Linked DNA regions of Homo sapiens. The protein of the gene in region 2 purifies or fractionates together with the protein of the main gene of each other region. This does not show direct contact. Each region holds a gene or a part of one and is shown on either strand. Other genes may lie near its edges.

Region 1 (7,028 bases), on a different chromosome or scaffold from region 2:
CTGACACTTGTCCACTCTGAGTCTCCAGTAATTTGTCAACTACAGGTCAGGTTTTCCTACTACCCTCGCACTGGTTCCTGAAGAGGTTTCTGCACCAGTTAAGTTGTGATTCTCTCTATCTGCCTATCTCCAATTATGGGGGCAGAGATTTGCCCTGTGACCTCGATTCTCTGCTATATACAAGAAAAGTTGTTTTCTCAGGTTGTTCAGTTTTTAATTTGTTATTAGCGTGAAGTGGTAACCTTAAGCTTCTTACATGGCATATTATTATTTTGAGACAGAGTTTCATTCTGTCAGCTGGAGTGCAATGTGGCATGTTCATGGCTCACTGCAGCTTTGACCTCCTAAGCTCAATTGATCCTCCCACCTCAGCCTCCTTAGCTGGGACTATAGGCGTGCACTACCATGCCTGGATAATTTTTTTTTTTTTTTTTCTGGTAGAGACAGGATTTTGCCATGTTGCTCAGGCTGGTCTCGAGCTCCTGGGCTCTGCCCGTTTCAGCATCCCAAAGTGCTGGGATTACAGGTGTGAGCAACCATGCCCAGCCACATACCAGATTCTTGTAGGATTTTTAGTATGAGTTTTTGTCTTGAGGGGCAAAGGAAATTTAAGACTACCATTCCTAGATTTCCTACCTGTTAAAAGTTTGAGAATCACTATTCTAGCAAAATTATATGCAACAAGCACTATAAAGAAGTTGTGACAATTTATAAATTAATTTTAATTTAAAATCTCAGTGTGTACAGATCAATAGTACACACGGAGCAGCTCATGTTTTAGCACACTAGAAGGCAGAAAGGGAGTCGTTTTTTGTTTTCCAAAATCAGATTATGAAGAACAAAATTACTTTAAAATTAGTAATTCAAAATTTGGCATACGTATCACTCTACTTTTTTTTTCCACCTCACAAAATCTTTCTTTTTTTTTTTTAAGTTCCGGGGTACATGTGCAGGATGTGCAGGTTTGTTACATAGGTGAACATGTGCCATGGTGGTTTGCTACACGTATCAACCCATCACCTAGGTATTAAGTCCAGTATGCATTAGCCATTTTTCCTAATGCTCTCCCTACTTCCACCCCACTCTACTTTTTATTTGAAGGTACAGAGTTTCAAGTAGTTCTAAAATGCACAAATGAGTTACCCATGGAACATTTTCTAACTCCTACCTCAAAAACCAGATTATTCCAAAGTATTCGTTATACCTTTGCAGTATGTTTGAAATATTTCATAATAAATGTAACTGCATGAGGTTAAAGGATTTCATACCATTTGATGTTTTAAAACAGGCATTTCAAAAGGAGGTCCTTTTGCTTACAGCTCCAAACTCACTGGACATTTACAGCTTAGAGTATGGTTAAAGTATGGAGACTAAAATGCTTGTTCCTATTAATATATACTTACTTAGGAAAACCAGTCAACTTTTCCTTTAGATATGTAGATGTGATTTGACTACAATGAAGAAAAGTATTTCAAGAAATACTAAATTTGTTCTTTGAATAAGGGAGTGCTAAACAGCTATTACTTTTCTACAGAATCAAAATTTAGTAAAATTAATTTTTCTCATTGCATTATAATTGGGCTAAAAATTAATCAACAAAATATGGCTCATTTAAAATTTGCCTGGGTTTTTCTTTCTTTATATAGAAGTAGGGGAATATTTAAATGTTTATTTGAATATGTGTATGTTCAGCAAATGCTAAAAATTTTATCTTTCTGAGTGACATGAACAAATGACTGCCTGTTGGAAGATGCACTAAACAAAAGCGAGCCTATAGTCTGGTGTTTGCAACTGTCTGAACCATTCAGGAAGAAATCTGGCTGAAACTTCTAGTGAGTTTAATTCATGTCTACCCAGAAAGGCAGCTGCTTGGAGATAAGGCTTTAATGTTTCTCTTGTCCAAGTTTGAATTCACTTTTATCAAAACTAAAAAAATTCTATGGTAGCACACAGTTGTTTTAATATTTTTAAAATTAACCTAGGCTTTTTTTCTCAAATGAAAAATTTTAGCCCATTCATAATGTTCTCTTTTGAAAATAAAATTTCATTCTTCTAGGAAAACAAATTGGAAATAGGAGGTTTTAAAAAGGTCATGCTATACAAACTAGTCATTTCATGTACACAAAGAGTCTAAGGTAATAATTTGAAAATGTTGTTAAAGATTTATGTGAGAAATATGCTTTGTATGTTCATAGGGTGCAATATTTTGCAGACTCTAAAGTCATGCTTTAGTGAATATCTAAAGACCAGGAAAACGTTCATGGTATATGTTGCAGAAAAGCATTGAATAATTAACCATAAAGTGTGGTCCGAATTTTGGAAAATAAAAATCCACATGTGGACATCTGAAACAAAATACATCAAAATAATGGGTTGTATTATTTCTGCTACCAAACTTTCTATACTTTTCAGATTTTCCATGAGGATGTATTTTCATTTAGGTCAAGAAAAATGTACTTTTACTCACTGATGACTATATACCTCCTCTCTTAGAATTGCTCACACAAACCACAACCAAACTGAATAAACTTTGGTCTCAAACGTACTTTTTCTATTCTATATTATTTACCTTCAGCATATATCACAAGGCAGGAAAAATAAATTGTTGCCTACTTCCCCTTCAAAAGTGTTTATGTCTTAACTCTTAGATTGATTCCAGGTCACTTGGGAATGATTTCAACATAGTGTGTACGTGTGTGTGTGTGTGTGTGTGTGTTTGTATGTATGTATGTACATACGTACATACATGTGTTTAAGGGCTGGTAATGTCTCCCTTTAGAATAATTTATTGTTTTTAAAACTCTCTCAAATACATATGTACACACACACACACACACACACTTATTTTGCCTAAGTTACACTTCTTTTTCATCTATATAAGAATATAGATACTTGTGCTTCTAAGCAAAGAGCATTACCTATTACATAAGGTTCTCAGATAACTGACATGGCAGGCTCACTCATTAAGGGAAATTCCTCCCTTCCATTATACATGGTAGTGGCAAAAGCTTAGCCAGCAGATGGTTATGGTTCTCTTGATCATAAAGAAATGTTCCCTAGTTTCAATGAGGTAGACTGGTCTATAAGGAAAATAGACCAGAAGATCCATGTTTTGATACTAGAAATAATGCATGTAACATTCAAAGAAGGATCTTGAGGGCAGGAACCAAGACATCTAAAAATTTAAAAGAGAACCCACAGGGTTCGGCCTATAGTAGAAACTGAAGAAATATTTAAAGAATGAATTACATTTTTATTAAGCAATTCTATTTTTCCATTGTCTTGAAGTACAAAGTGTTGGTGTGGCAAAAGCCTTTGATATCAAAAAAATTGTGGAAATGATTATGCTCCCCTGATATTCTATAAATAGTTCACTCCTTTTTCATGGATATTTACAATATTAATTGGCAGAAGTAGGAATTATCTTGTGGGTACATGCTACTGTATGGCATTTTTGACCCAGCAACCATGTCCTAGTCATGCTGTGTTCCTGGGCTCCTAATTCAGTGGTGTTTACCTCATGAACCAAAGAATGCCCCAAATGAATAGTATACCTTAGAAATCCTTTCAGCACAAGGCTTACAGTGTCTCATTCTTTCAAATATGATCTTATAATTTGCAAAGTTCATTTATAAGAAATTTATATATTAAAATATTCCTAAGAACAATTATACTAGGTAATTTCACAGTAGGTATTCAGGGTCTTAGAATAAAGTGGGACCTTGAAAATAAGTAACTTAAATTTTAGCTGAGTATTCTCAAGCTACTTTTATCAACTGTTTAGAATGAGAGGTATATGTGGCAGAATATTAACTAGAGCCAAGCTATGACAATTTGGCAGAGACTCTACCTCAGACTGTACGTCTAAACAAGTATTTAAGTAGTAACCTTGAATACTGTTTCCAAAAGCTTAACAAGGTGGTTTTATTTCCTTCAATGAGAATGTTTTCCATCAATAAAAAAGTTAACCCACATCTTGTACATAGAATACATTCACTTTGAACTCCATCAGTGGATAGGACAAAGCAATGTCCTTTAATAAATCCAACTACTTCCAAGTATAAAATAAATACAAATTTGTAAAAATTTTTAAAATAGAGATTATACATATAAGGAGATAGAAGAAGTAACATCCTGTGAATATATGCAGTACTTTAACCAAATACTGGTCATCAGATATATGATGCTCATATGGAGAGCTGAGAGGCTTAAAGAAGAGACAACAATAATTTATGATTAAAAATTAAGGTTGGCTGGGTGCGGTGGCTCATGCCTGTATCCCAGCACTTTAGGAGGCTGAGGCCAGCATATCACGAGATCAGGAGTTCGAGACCAGTTTGGCCAACATAGTGAAACCCGGTATCTACTAAAAATACAAAAAATCAGCCGGGTGTGGTGGTGTGCGCCTGTAATCCCAGCTACTCAGGAGGCTGAGGCAGGAGAATCACTTGAACCTGGGAGGCAGAGGTTGCAGTGAGGCGAGATCACACCACTGCACTCCAGCCTGGGCAACAGTGCCAGACTCCGTCTCAAAAAAAAAAAAAAAAAAATTAAGGTTGACAGGTTTGCCAGCCTGCTTCTGAGCTTTCTATCTCCAATAGCTGGTAAGTGGTAACATAGTTATTATTCTTTGTAGACTTGCTCGATCAGAATTACATTTTTGTAGCTCAGAAGATTCACAGTTCCTGTTTCGTATCAAATAGAAAATTCTGGGTCGTACTAAATATTTATAAACTTTCATACTACATAATCGATGTTTTTTAGGGTACAGGATGCCAAAACCATTTAACCTCAAAATCCTCTTGTCTATACATATGTACTTAACAATATGCATATTGTTAGCAAATACAGATGTGAGAGAAAGATAGTATTCTTGAGAGAACTGCATGCCAGGAAGTGCTAGCTTTTAACCTTTGTGTTTTTAATCAAGTAACAGATATTGTTTAAGAAGGTATATCTGAATATACTGTAATGTAAATTTTCAATGAAATAACTTCAGCCCTGAGACATAATGAGATACCAAAGTTTAAAAATCCCAAGTATGTAATAAAACACCAAATTTTAAAATATAACTTTTAACATTTCCTTTTACTTTTCTGAAGAAACATTTAAGATGCACTGTTATAATAAGGTAAACATTGAAACTGAATATATTTGAATTCAAAACTACAGATTTTAATTACTTTTTACTTAAATATTTTAAGCAATTAACAATTTAACCACAGCACCTTATCAGCATCGTAGTATCTAGTAATTCTATTTTTATATCAAAGAAGTATACATTTTTGTCCATTTTTGAATAATTAGTAAATCAGTAGCGTTTGCTTATATTGAATAACCTTGATTGTGAACAATATAAGCAACTCTAATGGACTATTTAGAAAATCGTAATGTTCTAATTAGAAAATACCAGTATCAACAATGTTATTTGTTGAATGCAAATGATAATTACTTTCAGCAATCAACTAAATACCAGATTGACTACAAGAAAGAGAATAAAGGACACCAACTCACCATTAAACAACATTTACTGACTCTATGACCCACCCACCACAATGTTAGCAACAGGGATAATATTTATATAAAAGAGAGTGGGCATGAGCTATGTGTTTCACATCTCTATGTTCCTAAGGTCAGTGGATGATTCATTAAGGAGTTTGTCACCTTTATGAATTCTTTATGTTTAACTTAAGAAATGGATACTCATTTTGTTTGGGGGTTGAGGTAAAACGGGTGGGTCAAATAGATTACCCGAAATAAACATAAACTCATATTCTTTTTCTCCCTTATCCCCAAAAGTGTGTTAAATATAATTCATTGTGGAGAAAAGAAATTGTTAAGTGTGAATCAATTTTATAAAATTAACTGTAATATGGTGGTAATGAAAGATGGTAGTCTGTAAGCAGAGTTCTGGCCACTATTTTGTATATTTAAAAGGTCTATGCAAAAGCTTTGTGATGAATAAAGGAGATTAGGCTTAAAAAAAGTTAACTGCAACAATTTTACCTTCAATTTTTATGATATGGCTCCTTGCATTTGAAAAAGGCTATAGATAGTGATAACTGAAAGAGTAACTGATGGTCCTTTTCACCCTAAGCACAGAGGAAGAGTTCTTCTGTATGCTTACTATTTGTAGTCTGTTACTATTTCTGACCCTGACTCTTGAATTCATTGCCTCTGCTCAGAATCACTCAAGAGTTTAAATTACACTTCTGCTAGACATTTTAAAGAACATATTATACTCATTACACATTCACAGTTAAGGATGGAATCCTTAACAATGAAGGATATAAAACAACTTTTGGTATAATCAAGGATATAATACAACTCGAAAATTGTCTATCATAATCTTCTTAGCTGTTACCAATTGTATGATGTCATATTTACATATGAATGACTTCAACACCTCAATAATCTATGGATTTGTAGTACTGTGATTCTCTTGAAAGCCAGAGCTTATGTAATACAAAATAATAAAATTATGGATTTTACAAAATAATATTCTCTGGCTAAATATTCTTTTTTTTTTTTTTTTTTGAGACAGTGTTTCACTCTTGTTGCCCAGGTTGGAGTGCAATGGCGCAATCTCGGCTCACTGCAACCTCCACCTCCTGGGTTCAAGTGATTCTCCTGTCTCAGCCTCCCAAGTAGTTGGGAGTATAGGTGTGTGTCACCATGCCTGGCTAATTTTGTATTTTTTTTTTTTTTTTTTTTTTAGTACAGATGGGGTTTCACCATGTTGGTCAGGCTGGTCTCCAACTCCTGACCTCTGGTGATCCACCCACCTCGGCCTCCCAAAGTGCTGGAATTACAAGCGTGAGCCACCAAGCCTCGCCTCTGGCTTTCAAAAGAGAGAATCACAATAATACAAAAATTTAAACCTGTTAAAATAACACTGTCCATATCCCAACAGCTCCTAAACACGTTAACTAAAATGGCATAATAAATTTGCCTGAGTTCATGTATGCCTTAATAAATAATCTTCAGAAAAAAATTTTAATCATTTTATTTTTCTATATTAACCATTT
Region 2 (7,028 bases):
TGCAACCTCTGCCTCCCGGGTTCAAGCGATTCTCGTGCCTCAGCCTCCCAAGTAGCTGGGATTACAGGCGCCCACCACCACACCTGGCTAATTTTTGTATTTTTAGTAGAGACGGGGTTTTACCATGTTGGTCAAGCTGGTCTCGAACTCCTGACTTCATGAGATCCACTGACCTCAGCCTCCCAAAGTGTTGGGATTACAGGCATGAGCCACCATGCCTGGCCTAATGTTTGTTATTTTTTAAATAAATAAATATTTTAAACATTTTTCAGTTTTAATTTCTAATGTTAAGTATGGACAGACATAGTCTATATAAACAAAAGATTTTTGGGGTCCTCAGAAATTTTTAAGAGTATAAATGTGTCCTGAGACCAAAATGTTTGAAAACCATTAGTTTATAGTACCACAAAAAAATAGCACTTTTAAGTATATGTATACAAGAGAATGGACACCTGAATATGAATCAGAAGATCTTGGCTCCAATTCTAGCACCACTTCTTACTTGCTTTAGGATTTCAATAAATTACTTCATCTCTCTAAGGCCTTAGTTTCCTCATCTGTAAAATGGGTAACTCATGTCTTCCAAGGATAAAAGAGACAAAATATGTAAAAGCAATTTATAAACTACAAGGTACACTATTATTACAAGATCTCAAAGTTAAGCATTTTAAACACTTCTTATGATGTTTTGTTTCTTTGTTTTTGAAACAGGGTCTCACTCTGTTGCCCAGGCTGGAGTGCACTGGCACTAACATGGCTTACTGCAGCCTTGACCTGCCAGGCTCAGGTGATCCTCCTACCTGAGCCCCACGAGTGGCTGGGACTACAGGTGTGCACCATCACACCCAGCCAATTTTTTGTATTTTTTGTGGCGACAAGGTTTCACCATGTTGCCCAGGCTGGTCTACTCCTGACCTCAAGTGATCCGCCCACCTCCCCAAGTGCTGGGATTACAGGCATGAGCCACCATGCCTGGCCTCTTACGATGTGTCTATGAAATTTTCCTTATTCTTAAAATTTTATTACTAAAAACAGAACTTATAGAAAATGTCAAGTGCAGGCCAGGAGCAGTGGATTACACCTATAATCCTAGCACTTTGAGAGGCCAAGACAAGCAGATCACTTGAAGTCAGGAGTTTGAGACCAGCCTGGCCACCCTGGTGAAACCACATCTCTACTAAAAATACAAAAATTAGCTGGTGTGGTGGTGCACGCCTGTAATCCCAGCTACTTGGGAGGCTGAGGCAGGAGAATTGCTTGAACCCAGGAGGCAGAGATTGCAGTGAGCTGAGACTGCGCCACTGCACTCCAACCTGGGTGACAGAGTGAAACTGGGTCTCAAAAAAAAAAAAAAAAAAAAAAAGCCAAGTGCAGACTTTTGATTAGCTAATTAGCTCAAATGTCCAAGCATATAATTTTACTTTATTTTATTTTGCAGAGACAGAGTCTCACCATGCTACCTAAGCTGGTCTCAAACTCCTGACCTCAAGCGATCCTCCCACCTCAGCCTCCCAAAGTACTGGATCATAAGAATGAACCCTCATACCCAACCCAACAACACAATTTTATTGCATTTAATTTCTTACCCTACAGTTATAATTGGTTATATATTTTAAATCATTATTAGGGACATTTCCAAATATACACAAATGTAAAAAAAATAACAAACTCCAACTTACCCATTACTCAGCTTCAACAATTTTCAAAAATTTATCAATACTCTTTTATTCATTTCCCACTTCTGTGTGTTTGTGCCCATCCTGAAGTTTTTTAAAATGAACATTTCGCATCATTTTATTCTGCCTGTAAGTACATCCATATGTATTTTTAACACATGAAAATATTTTAACATAACCACAATATGACTATTATAGCTGAAAACATTATGGTTGTAACTATTAAATATCACCTAATATATATTCCATTTTCAAGTTTCCCAACTGTCTCAATTAAAAAAAAAAAGTCTTTGTTAGTTTTTGGTTGGTGGGTATTATCAAAATATCATTCTTACCAATTCTTTCTCAAGTCAACCCAAGATGTTTAACTAAAGCTACGAAGGAAGAGGAAATAATACTATGCTTCATATACCATGTACAGTTTACAAAACAAGTCAAGAACTATCTTCTCGAGGAATTTTCTTTTCCACCAACCAAACAATAACAACAAAAACCAAGCAACAACAACAAATAAACCCACTACAAAATAAGCCAGCATGGCAATACATATACCTTAGTATTCTGAGAAGTGATCCAAAGAGCACACAGCTCAGCTGCTCGGGAAGAGAAGGAGCTGTTACACTGTGAGCCGAAAAAGGTGACTGGAAACAACCACCCATCATTTTGGAAAAGAAGAAGTCAGGTCAGCCACAGGGTCAAAGCTGGAGGTGAGGTCAGAGACCCCGTTCTAGAGTGAGCACATGGCTCAAATAAGAGTCCATGCCCAAGACTATAAGTCAACCCCTTGCAAACTGCAACTCAAAGCTCAAAACACAGTGCTCTAAGCTAGAGATATAATGGAACGGCTATAAAAAGCAACAGGTGTAAGAACTGACTGAAATTATTTGACAAACATTTGTCAAAAGCCTACTCTACTATCCTGGGATATAAACTGTGTATTTAAAAACTAGTACAACGCACACTGTAAGTAGCATATACTTCTCTACACATCTTTCCCCATTTATTTTAAGAGAAATAATGGATATATTAAATATTAATTATCTTGCCATACCATTACATCTTTTTTCTATAAACGCAATTTGCCCCACCCCAACATACATAGACATTAAAACAAACCTGAATTCTTCTGTCTTTCCCAAATATTTTTGAGGAGTACAAGTCAGATTAACTTTTATTACACATACCACAGACCCACAGCATTTATAGCTGTAATTCTTTTCTAAATTAAGGCCAAGCATGGTGGCTCACACCTGTAATCCCAATGCTTTGGGACGCCGAGGTGGGAGGATTGATTGAGCCCAGGAGTTCAAGACTAGCTGGGCAACATAGCAAGACCCTGTCTCTACACAAAATAAAAAATTAGCTAGGTATAGTTGCACATGCCTATAGTCCTAGCTATTTGGGAGGCTGAGGTGGGAGAATCCCTTGAACCGAGGAAGTCAAGGATGTAGTGAGCTGTGATGACACCACTGCACTCCAGCTTGGGCGACAGAGTAAGACCATGTCTCAAAAAAATAAAAATTAAATAAATTAAGCATTTAGTTTAGGAGGAAATCAAGAGAGCACTAAAGAATTTCCTACCTTGTATTAAAATTGTTTCCCATAGGTTTATCTCAAGTATTTTGTAGATGAAAATTGGTTAGGTGCATACAGAATAATTCTTGAGGGATTTGGTTCTATAGACACACTTAATATCAACACTTTTTAAAATCCTTTACCTCAATTTCACCTATAAAAAAGTTTTGCTGGTCACAGTGGCTTGTGCCTGTAATCCTAGCACTTTGGGAGACTAAGGCAGGAAGACTGCTTGAAGCCAGGAGTTTAAGACCAGCCTGGGCAACAAAGTGAGACCCCCATCTCTATAAAAATAATAAAAATAAATAATAATAATTAGCCGGGTGTGGTGGCATGCACCACCTGTGGTCTCAGCTACTTGGGAGGCTGAGGCAGGAGGACTGCTTGAGCCCAGGAGTTTGAGACTACAGTGAGCTATGATTGCTCTATTGCACTTCAGCCTGTGTGACAGAGACAGACCCCATCTTTAATTAAAAAAAAAAAAATTAAAAACTGCAAAAAGAGTGAAGGGCACATATTTCTTAAAGAATGCTTCAGAAGAACAAAATGTGCCCCAAAACATGAAATAGCTCCTGATAATATCAGTTTTTAGTTGACCACTATGAAGGACATCTTCTAAACAATAACAAAACAAACCTGGCAGTCCAATAACTACAGGAAAGATCAAGACTTCCCCATTTTGGAACATCTTTGCTTCAGGTTTTTACTTTTTGTAGTAATACAGGAACAATATGCCATAGGGACAAGAGTTGAACAGGTGTCATCCCTTACCCTATTTTACCTATTGGTAATTAAGCCTAACAGTTTATTGTCTGTACATCTTTTCTTTTGTATGTTCCCATACAAAACAATCTTTGGAATTTAGCTTCACTTTATGACACTATGGTGATTATTGTTCCTAACAGAGAGTCTAACCTAAGAATATAGCCCAATACGTGAAAAAGCTAACTGAACAGTAAACAATGACATTAATCTCATTGTAAAAAAACATGAGATTCTTAGCAAATGGCAGCAAAAGAACTGTGGATACATTAACAAGGCATTAAAAAAAAAATTTAAAGTTTCTGGCCGGGTGTGGTGGCTCACACCTGTAATCCCAGCACTTTGGGAGGCCAAGGCGGGTGGAACACGAGGTCAGGAGATCGAGACCATCCTGGCCAACGTGGTGAAACCCCGTCTCTACTAAAATACAAAAAAAAATTAGCTGGGTGCGGTGGCACACGCCTGTAGTCCCAGCTACTCGGGAGGCTGAGGAAGGGGAATCGCTTGAACCCGGGAGGCGGAGGCTGCAGAAAGCCGAGATGGCGCCACTGCACTCCAGCCTGGCGACAGAGCAAGACTCCGTCTCAAAAAAAAAAAAAAAAAAATCTAAGTTTCCATGCTTTGACCTAAAAAAAAGTCACATAGGTTTCTTTTTCTTTAATTCCCATTTCTTTTTTTAAAAACTGGTTAATGTGTAGATTTTTATTCAAATTCATTTGGACTGCACATGAATATTAAAAAGTTATAACATGAAGACTGTTCATTAGACTATCATAGGCAAAGCAAGTGATTCACAGAATAAGTGCAATTTATCGACCCTGATCATTACCTTTACTACCGACCACTATTTAACATCACTTTTTTAATGTACTGTTTACTTGTTTACTGTCTTTGTTTATTGTCCTGTCTTCTCCCACTAGAATATAAGTTACGTAAGGGCAAAAACTTTCTCTTATTTTCCACTGTATGGCCAGGGTCTAGCACTTGGTAGAGGATCAGCATAAATTTGCTGAATGAGATGGGTGAATACCTTCCGCCTTTCGCCTCCCCCACTTCCCTCTCTCCATACACATGTTAACCAATCTTTAAGGCCAGGGTCAAATTCTATTATCTCTATGAAGATTACCTCCCTGAGCCCTCTTTCTCTTTTGTACCTGAATTTGGCACTTGCCAGCTGTCTGGTAATTATCTTTGCATATGTATGTATCTCCCTTAAAATTCTTATAATCCTGTTCTCCATAACATGGGCCAGTGTCCCCAACTTTTGGAATCCATCTCAGCACATGTAAACAGCATACTGCTAACAAATGTTTTGCTTGATTCCTATCAGTAGTTAATCCAGAAATTCAGTTAATAATTTCAGTTTATAATGTATCCCTCCCTTTCAAATAACTCAAAATAGGCCATGATATTACAGCGAATCCCTCTTTTTATTTCTGACAATTTTAAATTTTACATTCTCATATAAGTAATGCTCATAATTTACCCTATCAATCACTATCCCTCAAGATTATATGTTTTTTTTTTTTTGATACACTGTCTTGCTCTGTTGCCCAAGCTGGAGCGCAGCAGTGCCATCATAGCTCACTGCAGCCTTGACCTCCCAGGCTCAAGAGATCCTCCCACTTCAGCCTCCAAAGTAGCCGGCACCACAGCTGCGTACTACTACCATACCTAGCTAATTTTTTGATTTTCTGTGGAAACAAGGTCTTTGTTGCCAGGGCTGTTCTCAACACCTGAGCTCAAGTGATCCTCCTGCCTTAGCCTCTTAAAGTGCTGGGATTATAGGAATGAGCCACCACGCCTGGCCTACATTTTTTAATGTAATAAAAAAATCTTGTGACTTTGTGGCAATACCTATAATGATGTTTCTAACCCCAGTCAAGAAGGGCGTGAAGTTTCATTCCTCTCTCTTGTTGCTGAGGTATCAGAGGGCATTTTTCCACTTATTCCTCTTTCCTTTCATGGCAAGATGTATTCTGTTCCCTTCCTTACTGATCATACTCCTGGCAAGCTTTTATTATTTCTTTGTACCTGTCCAAGGTAATCTGTCTTACATCCTTCTTTTGAGCCACTGTTTCCTCCAGTTATTTATTTGATTAAAATTCTAACTCCCTGTCTCAATCCATTTGTGTAGAAGAACCAGCTCTTCTTAAAGCCTGAGCCTGCTTCTTTAAATTCGGCCAACCTTTATGAACCTCTCTTCACACAGCCAACCCTTGATCATCAAGGATAATGAAATGCATACAAATAACAGATTGTCTACAACACAAGAAAATCAGAAAAAAAAAATTGACATCTGGCTTTGGAATTTATCATATGTAGCTTTGGGCAAGACTTATTTTCCTAATTATGTTTTTGTTTAAGCCAACATTCGGATTTTCTTTTATGATGGTGAATATCTCCGTTTTAAATGATCAGTAAATTTCTTTTAAAGCCAATCAAGCACCAACTATGGTTTTTCCTGTGAAATCTTTTTAACTAGTTTCTTTCATCTGTTGAAATCTGTCATAAAATCTGTTTTATTTCCTCTAAGTTATCTCCTTATTTTCTTGGGATTCTGATCCAAATCAGTTCACCCTATATTAATTTACTTCTTCAAATTAAAGTACCTTTTGCTTGAGAACTTAATGCATTTTAAAAACACTGAATGTCCAGTGAAATTTTTAGTTCAGGTAACACGAAGTAGAAAATTATTTTTGTCTAGGAAAACTTGGGAGTTCTAGGATAAATTATTACACTGGTAATTCTAGCAAATTATATTTAGTAGGATTTTTAGGATTAGCTGAAAATTGAAAAAATTTAATACTGGACAGCTATATAAGTCTGCTTCATCAATATATTAATCCCATATGCTAAACACTGTATGAAATTAAATTCCCAGTCCAGGGATTTACAGAAAATAGCATCAAAACACACTAACACATAAATCCTGCCTCTTATTCTGATCCCTACCTAAACTCTGCAACCTTCTCACACCTACTCTTCCCCCCTCCCATCTCAGCCTCACTTCCA
Region 3 (7,266 bases), on a different chromosome or scaffold from region 2:
CTTACTTTTCCAAGTATGTTGAGCCCTCTTTATTTTCTGTATTTTCATGCTTGAGTTAATAAATTGCAAAGTTTCCCTCTTTTGTTTGCTTTGTTTTCCTTTATATACCATTTGTTGGAGGTTCTCTGTTTTTAAAGAGAGGGGGATGAAAAGTAAATTATCCCCTTGGGCTTGCGAAATAAAGTTTACCTATCTACTAAATAAATATCTCATAGCTTTCTGTGGTGGCTCAGTGGGTTATTGGAACTTTTTTTTTTTTGAGACGGAGTCTCGGTATCGCCCAGGTTGGAGCAGTGGTGCGATCCTGGCTCACTGCAACCTCCGCCTCCTGGGTTCAAGCAATTCTCCTGCCTCAGCCTCTCAAGTAGCTGGGATTACAGGCGCACCACCGCGCCCAGCTAATTTTTTGTATTTTTAGTAGAGACGGGGTTTCACCATGTTGGACAGGCTGGTCTCAAACTCCCGACCTCAGGTGATCCACCCGCCTTGGCCTCCCAAAGTACTGGGATTACAGGCGTCCGGCCTATTTTCTTTTCCAAATGCAGTTTATTTAAAACTCATATAAGGTGGCTGGGAGTGGTGGCTCACGCCTGTAATCCCAGCACTTTGGGAGGCGGAGGCGGGTGGATCATCTGAGGTCAGGAGTTGGAGAAGAGCCTGGCCAACCTGGTGAAACCCCATCTCTACTAAAAATAAAAAAAATTAGCTGGGCATAATGGCGCATGCCTGTAATCCCAGTTACTTGGGAGGCTGAGGTAGGATAATCGCTTGAATCCGGGAGGTGGAGGTAGCAGTGAACAGAGATCACGCCATTGCACTCAAGCCTGGGCGACAGAGGGAGACTCCATCTCAAAACAACAACAACAACACTCATATAAGGCTGAAAAAAAAAAAAAAAAAACAACTAAGCATTCTCAGTATTAGGTTCAAGAATGAGACTTGTGTGTTCATAAACAAGAGGTCATGTGAGCTGCCAGAGCCAGTACATGGGATACGAAGGCCAGAGCCTGTTTGTAAACCATTAACAGGAATAACAAGAGATAAACATTATCAGTTTACACCCAGCCTCCGCCGAAACCCAGCGTAACACATTTCCACATTTCCTGACTCCCCTATCCTGACTCCCCACAGGATTCTGAGACCAGCCTGGGCAATATAGTGAGACTTCCTCTCTACAAATTAAAAAATTAGCTTGGGGTGGTGGCCTGCACCTGTAGTCCTAGCTACTCAGGAGGCTGAGGTGGGAGGATCACTTGAGCCCAGGAGGTTGAGGTTGCAGTGAGCCATGATCCCACCACTGCACTCCAGCCTGAGTGACAGGGCAAGACTCTGTCTCAGAAAACAAAAGAAAACGAACATTTAGCAAATTTAATTATTCGAGAGAGACAGTTCAAAATCTAGGGATTTTTGGTTTGTTTTTATATTTACTACATAAGCTTAGTCGGTAGAAATGAGGATTAGCTTTTTGTATGACAATTTACAATAGCTATTATTTAAAAAATATTTTTATTCTTAAGAGTCAACCTTGACCGGGCGTGGTGGCTTGCGCCTGTAATCCCAGCACTTTGGGATGCCGAGGCGGGTGGATCACGAGGTCAGGAGATCGAGACCATCTTGGCTAACATGGTGAAACCCCATCTCTACTAAAAATACAAAAAATTAGCCGGGCACAGTGGCGGGCGCCTGTAGTCCCAGCTACTCGAGAGGCTGAGGCAGGAGAATGGCGTGAACCTGGGAGGGGGATTAAGTCCAGAAGATCGAGGCTGCAGTGAGTGGTGATCACCCAGCCTGAGCAACAAAGGGAGACACTGTCTCAAAAAAAAAAAAAGAAGAAGGTTTTGGTTTCAGATACAAATAAATATCAGAGACTCGGGGTCTTGAGATACCTACATTAAATTAGAAATAAAATGATAAAAACCAGCAAACACCTATGCTTTCTGTGAATATACATTTCTCATATCCCGTCTCCTTGATGTCTGCCCAAAAAAGGTACCCAGTCTGATATGCTGTTCATTATATGAAATTTTAGCCAAAAGTTGAACCATTAACTATTAAAAGTCATGTTATCACTTATTTATTTTGGATGATGGATAACGGGTGTTTATTATATCTTTCTGTATGCTTTAATTTCCAAAATGAAAGTGTTTAAAAAATAATAATAAGACTCGGTAGTTAGCCTGATTCTCCAAACTTCAGGCCAGATTTTTGTATACCACAAATCTGCAGCCAGTGCAGTGGCTCATGCCTGTAATCCCCAAACTTAGGGAGGCAGAAGCAGGAGGATAGCTTGAGCCTAGGAGTTCAAGACCTGCCTGGGCAACAGAATAAGAACTCCATTCTCCACAAAAAGAAAAAAAAAAAAAAAAAGAAAGACAATATACAAATCTACGGGAAGGAATCTTTCCAGAAAGGAAGAATTTGTTTCAAGAACTGTTTTGCAGGAATATCAGAAGGTTTTTTATTTTTCTTTGACTCAAAGGCTGTAACACTGTACTTTATAAAAATGGAAATAAAGGCATTAGTTTGAACAATCCTCTATGCTGCTACTGTTGTAAAGTTTGGAGCCTATAACTCACTCAAATTGGTTTATAGCCATGTGTTTACTAAATCTTTTTTCATATTCCTTTTCTCCAGGCATACAGGAATTTATATCTCACAGCCTTCTTAGAGTCAGTCAGGTTGAGCCTGGTGACTAGTTCAGGACAGTGAAACGTCAGCAGAAGTGAAAAGGCCACTCACTTCTGGCAGAGGCAAAGGAGAGCCCTTACAGGATTCTCCAATCTAGCTCTTCTGCCAGCCCGGAAGTGCTGGGAGGGCAGAGCCACTGACGCAAGCAGCAGGGAAGCTGAGTCACCATGGGGACGTGAGACTGACTTACAGATGACGAGTGCAGCCTCACAGCCTAGTCCATGTTGAGATAAACACAATACAGTCCTGCATACTTTATAGTCATAAACGAGGGAGAATAGAAATGGAAAATGACCCTCTAGGCCTCTAAGACCAAATTATAATGAAAAAATTTATGTCTTCAGTTTTGAAAATTAAATTTTTTGACCCTGATAAAACAAATTTGCTATACAAGTATCCGTTAACCGTGTGAAACCTACTGAGTCAAACTATTTTCTTACATTCCTTCCACTTCAACACCAATTCTAATCCAATTCCAAATTAGTTTTCAGAGAGTCTCTTGTAAGGAAAAGGAGAATCGACTTCGAATTTTAAAATTTGTGCTATTATTAGTTTATAGAGCTTTCAACAATTTACAAATAGTTTGCATAATCAGTATATTTAATTAGTATATATAGACATATATATATATATTTGAGAGGGAACTTCACTGCAACCTCCCAGTTGCCTCCTGGGTTCAAGTGATTCTCCTGCCTCAGCCTCCCAAACAGCTAGGGTTATAGGCGCCCACCACCACGCCCGGCTAATTTTTGTATTTTTAGCAGAGACAGGGTTTCATCATGTTGGCCAGGCTGGTCTGGAATGCCCAACCTCAGGTGATCTGCCCGCCTCGGCCTCCCAAAGTGCAAGGATTACAGGCGTGAGCCACCAAGCCCGGCCTAGTGTAATTTTTAAAAGTACAAAAGCCACTAGAAACCGTGACAATAAGAACTTCCTTTTGGGTTTTCCAGCATTTGGTTCATAGGACATGGACCATATATAGATGTTTTTTGAATGCTGAAATCTTTTACTCATAACACAGTTTTCCCAGTAACTTGCTTCCGGTTGATTTAAAATTTGTAATACACCTTTGTAATAGCAGGTACCTTCATGAAACTCAGTATTTGAGAAAAATGTGGAGTTTTTCCCCCTTTCTTTTGGCCAGAATGTATATCCAGGGTAGTGACTTTCGAGCAAATGCGTTTAAGCAACTCCAGTATTCTTACTACGCTACCTCCAACCTCGCTCCACGCATGGGGAGATCAGGGTTCCACATTTTCGGGTAAGCATTAGCCGTCCTGGCGCTGCACGAGCGTATTCTACAATTCCGAAAACTACTAACTTTTCCGTCTGCAACCTTTAATAATTGAGAGGGTATGCGCAACTCAGAAAAGTGCGCCCGCTGAGGTTGGGTGCAGAGTGGACTGGAGGAAAGGCGACACCCATTTACGGTGCGGCCCCGGACGGGGTCCCCAGACACGGCCTTCCCGGCGTGCCACGCGCGGAGGGGACTCTTAACGTGAAGCGCTGGGTGACTCAGCCGCGTGGCCGCGCGGTCCGGGGCGGGGGGCGCGCGCCGCTGCGGCACAGCCGGTCCCGGCTGCGGCTTCTGGCTGCGCGGCCTGCGCGCGCCTCCCGGGCGGATTCCAGCCCCGAGCGGGACAGCGCGGCGGGGAGCGACGAGTAAGTGGCGGCGCGGTACGGTTTCGGGCGCGAAGACCGGGCAGGGAGAGTGTGGCGGCGGGCGTGGCCCGAGTCTTCCCTTTGTGGCCGAGGGGGCGTCTCCTCCGGACGCGGCGGCGGTTCGGACCCCCGAGTCGAAAGGCCGCGGGGCTGAGCTGGGCGCGAGGAACCTGTGGGCAGCGGCTTGATGGGCTCCTGTTTCCGCGCGGAGGGCAGAGTCTGGTGATCCTGGGGAGGGAGGCGACGCTGCGCCCAGGTGGTGGGCACAGCTGAAGTGTAACTTGACTGCTTGACTGCTTTTTGCAGGCCTCGGGTGGTTCATCCCGCCGGAGAGGAATGGCGAGAACCTGGAGTGTTGACTGGCAAAACATTTGCAGACGCGGTTTTTCTGGCAATTAATTGGCTCCATTAAAAATTAGGTAGTTGGTGGGGACTTCCTCCTGAACTCTGGAGCCGAGCGCATTTTGCTCGGTCTTTTCAGCCCTGTTTCCGCGTCTTCCTTCCCTGCCACCCGCAAATTGCCAGCTTTCATCCGTGGCTCTGAGTGCAAAAGAGCTGGGGAAAGCCTTAACCAGCAATTTTCTTTTAAATAAAACTTTGCTTTTTATAGCAGTGTCTTCAGGTTTAGAAGCCCAGTTCTGCACTATGAGAAAACTCTTCTATTTTGGAGTTTGTGATTCTTTCTGAAAATTCCTCAGTTGAAGAGATTTATTTTTAAATAAGAATCTAGTGAACAAACTAACATGATAAACAAGGCTGTGAAGGAACTGTTTAACCAGCTTATGAAAATATGTCCCAGAGTCCTTAGTTTTGTTCCTGTTCGCTGTGCGAGAAGTTGAGGTAGTTTTTTAATGGTCTTCAAAACAAAGTGTTGTAGTAGTGTCTGTCGGATGTGATGAATCCAGAGTCAGAGGACTTCCGCTCAAGGCCCCCACCTGAAACCCCAATTCCTAGGCCATAGTTCTGAAACAGAAGATTGTTCCTTAGTAATAAGGTTGCAGTACCCTAGCACCTCTTCCATAAATTTGATTCTAGAGATTTGTGATGGGTCCCTGAGTCTGGGATTTAAGCAAGCACCTGCACTCTTGGTCTGTTACTGATGATCCAGGGACCGACCACACGTTGACAGACACCACCTTTAGGCTGGGCTGGGAATTTTAAAAACTGCCCAACAGCCTTAACCCTTTGTCGATGTTTTCCTCCCCTGCCCTAAACCAGTCGTAGGACAAGAAGCCCTGACTCTCCAGAAGCCAATATGAGAAAAGATAGTGCTTTTTTTGACCCTGACACGGGGTAGGAAATGATTTTCATGCATATTCCGATATTGCTCTGATGGTTTAGAGATAGCCCATTAATCTTTTCCTTCTGAGGGCTGCTTCTAGTATCATCAGAGCTTAATGCCATTAGGCCAAATCTCCTCCGCCCAGCTCACTCAAGTCTCCCCATGGAACCAGGGCAGCCAATGCCATATAATTCCCATGGCCTTGACTGTCATATTATCTGGTATGTAGCAGTACTAGTAGCATTATGAGGGCTTTCAGTTCAGCTGGACGTTAATTTAGTCATCAAATACCTGCGTAATGCCTATTTTCCTCAAAGCACTGTAGTAGGCTGTTTTATCAACAGCATTGCAATATAGACACATATTTCTGGCACAGAGTTGCATTCCTCCTTTGAGGCAGAAATGAGGGCTGGATAAACTCCACTGCTGCCAAAAGGTTCTCTTTATTCATCCACAATTTGTTCCTTCCTGTTATGCCAGAAATACACGTACTATTCCAATAATCTCGTTTTCCTTAAGAAGTTAAGAAATACATTGTATTAGGCCTAACTGTAGTAGTTAGGTCAGTCTTAAATTCTGTAACAGAAGCCGGGCGTGGTGGCTCATGCCTGTAATCCCAGCAATTTGGGAAGCCGAGGCAGATGGATCACCTGAGGTCAGGAGTTTCAGACCAGCCTGGCCAACCTGGTGAAACCCTGTCTCTACTAAAAATACAAAAATAAGCCAGGCATGGTGGTGGGCACCTGTAATCCCAGCTACACGGGAGGCTGAGGCCGGAGAATCACTTGAATCCGGGAGGCAGAGGTTGCAGTGAGCCGAGATCGCGCCATTGTACTCCAGCCTGGGCAACAGAGTGAGACTCCGTCTCAAAAAAAAAAAAAAAAAAAAATCTGTAACAGAGACATCTAGTAACTTTGGTAAGGACAATAATACACGCATTTTTATATTTATTATTCCCCCTTCAAATAGATGTGTAGAGATGAGGTTAGAATTAGGCCATGTGTTTCTGTGACTTTTTTCCTCTCTTTGGTGTCTGATTTATCTTATTGAATCTTTTTCTGTTGATTCATAAAATGTCATGTCTTTCCTTCTGTAGCCCTGAGCTTCCTGATTGTTGTGTCTTCCTCTGGCCTTCAATCTGATCTTCCTGCCCCTCTTTGGCTAAGTGGAGTGAAATATTGAGGGGAATTGTTAGAATACCACATGATTTTTAGTTGGAAGATCCAGAGTCTTAGATATATGAGGCTTAGAGATATAAAGGAGCTTATTACAAATTTATCAAATGCAATCCTCTCAGATAAAGAATCTGAGAGATGAGATTGCAGAGTGAGGACTTCTGGCTCCTAGCCCAGTGTTCTTCCCACCAAATTAAATGCTTCAAAAGTAGAAAAGGTCCAGAGAAATTATAAGTAGATGGAGAAAAATGGAGAGACTTTCATATGACTACAAAAGCAATATTATCTTATCTGGAAAAATGGAGATTGAAGGAGGATATGATGTAACCATATAAATCATAAAAAGTGGGAGTACTAATAATAAGGAACTCTTTGAAGCTTGAAATAAGTAGTGAAAGGACAAATAAGAGCAAGAGATAGCTATCTTGTAAAGCCCCAGAAATGTTATGAACTCAGTTT

Evidence for each region.
Region 1: the proteins of DUSP16 (region 2) and MLF1 purify together in Homo sapiens (affinity purification with mass spectrometry; 2 studies listed by BioGRID and IntAct, with this or other methods). This does not show direct contact.
Region 3: the proteins of DUSP16 (region 2) and KCTD20 purify together in Homo sapiens (affinity purification with mass spectrometry; 2 studies listed by BioGRID and IntAct, with this or other methods). This does not show direct contact.

Annotation. Positions count from the first base shown.
Region 1 is NC_000003.12:158,574,194-158,581,221, reverse strand, and holds part of MLF1 (myeloid leukemia factor 1), read right to left. Parts: intron 1-7,028. UniProt on the Homo sapiens protein: Involved in lineage commitment of primary hemopoietic progenitors by restricting erythroid formation and enhancing myeloid formation.
Region 2 is NC_000012.12:12,552,857-12,559,884, forward strand, and holds part of DUSP16 (dual specificity protein phosphatase 16), read right to left. Parts: intron 1,804-7,028; exon of another isoform or gene 1,680-1,803; intron 580-1,679; exon of another isoform or gene 453-579; intron 1-452. UniProt on the Homo sapiens protein: Dual specificity protein phosphatase involved in the inactivation of MAP kinases. Dephosphorylates MAPK10 bound to ARRB2.
Region 3 is NC_000006.12:36,438,762-36,446,027, forward strand, and holds the start of KCTD20 (BTB/POZ domain-containing protein KCTD20), read left to right. Parts: upstream 1-4,238; 5' UTR 4,239-4,350; intron 4,351-4,656; exon of another isoform or gene 4,657-4,769; intron 4,770-7,266. Other genes in the region: PXT1 (peroxisomal testis-specific protein 1), read right to left, coding at 3,774-3,779. UniProt on the Homo sapiens protein: Promotes the phosphorylation of AKT family members.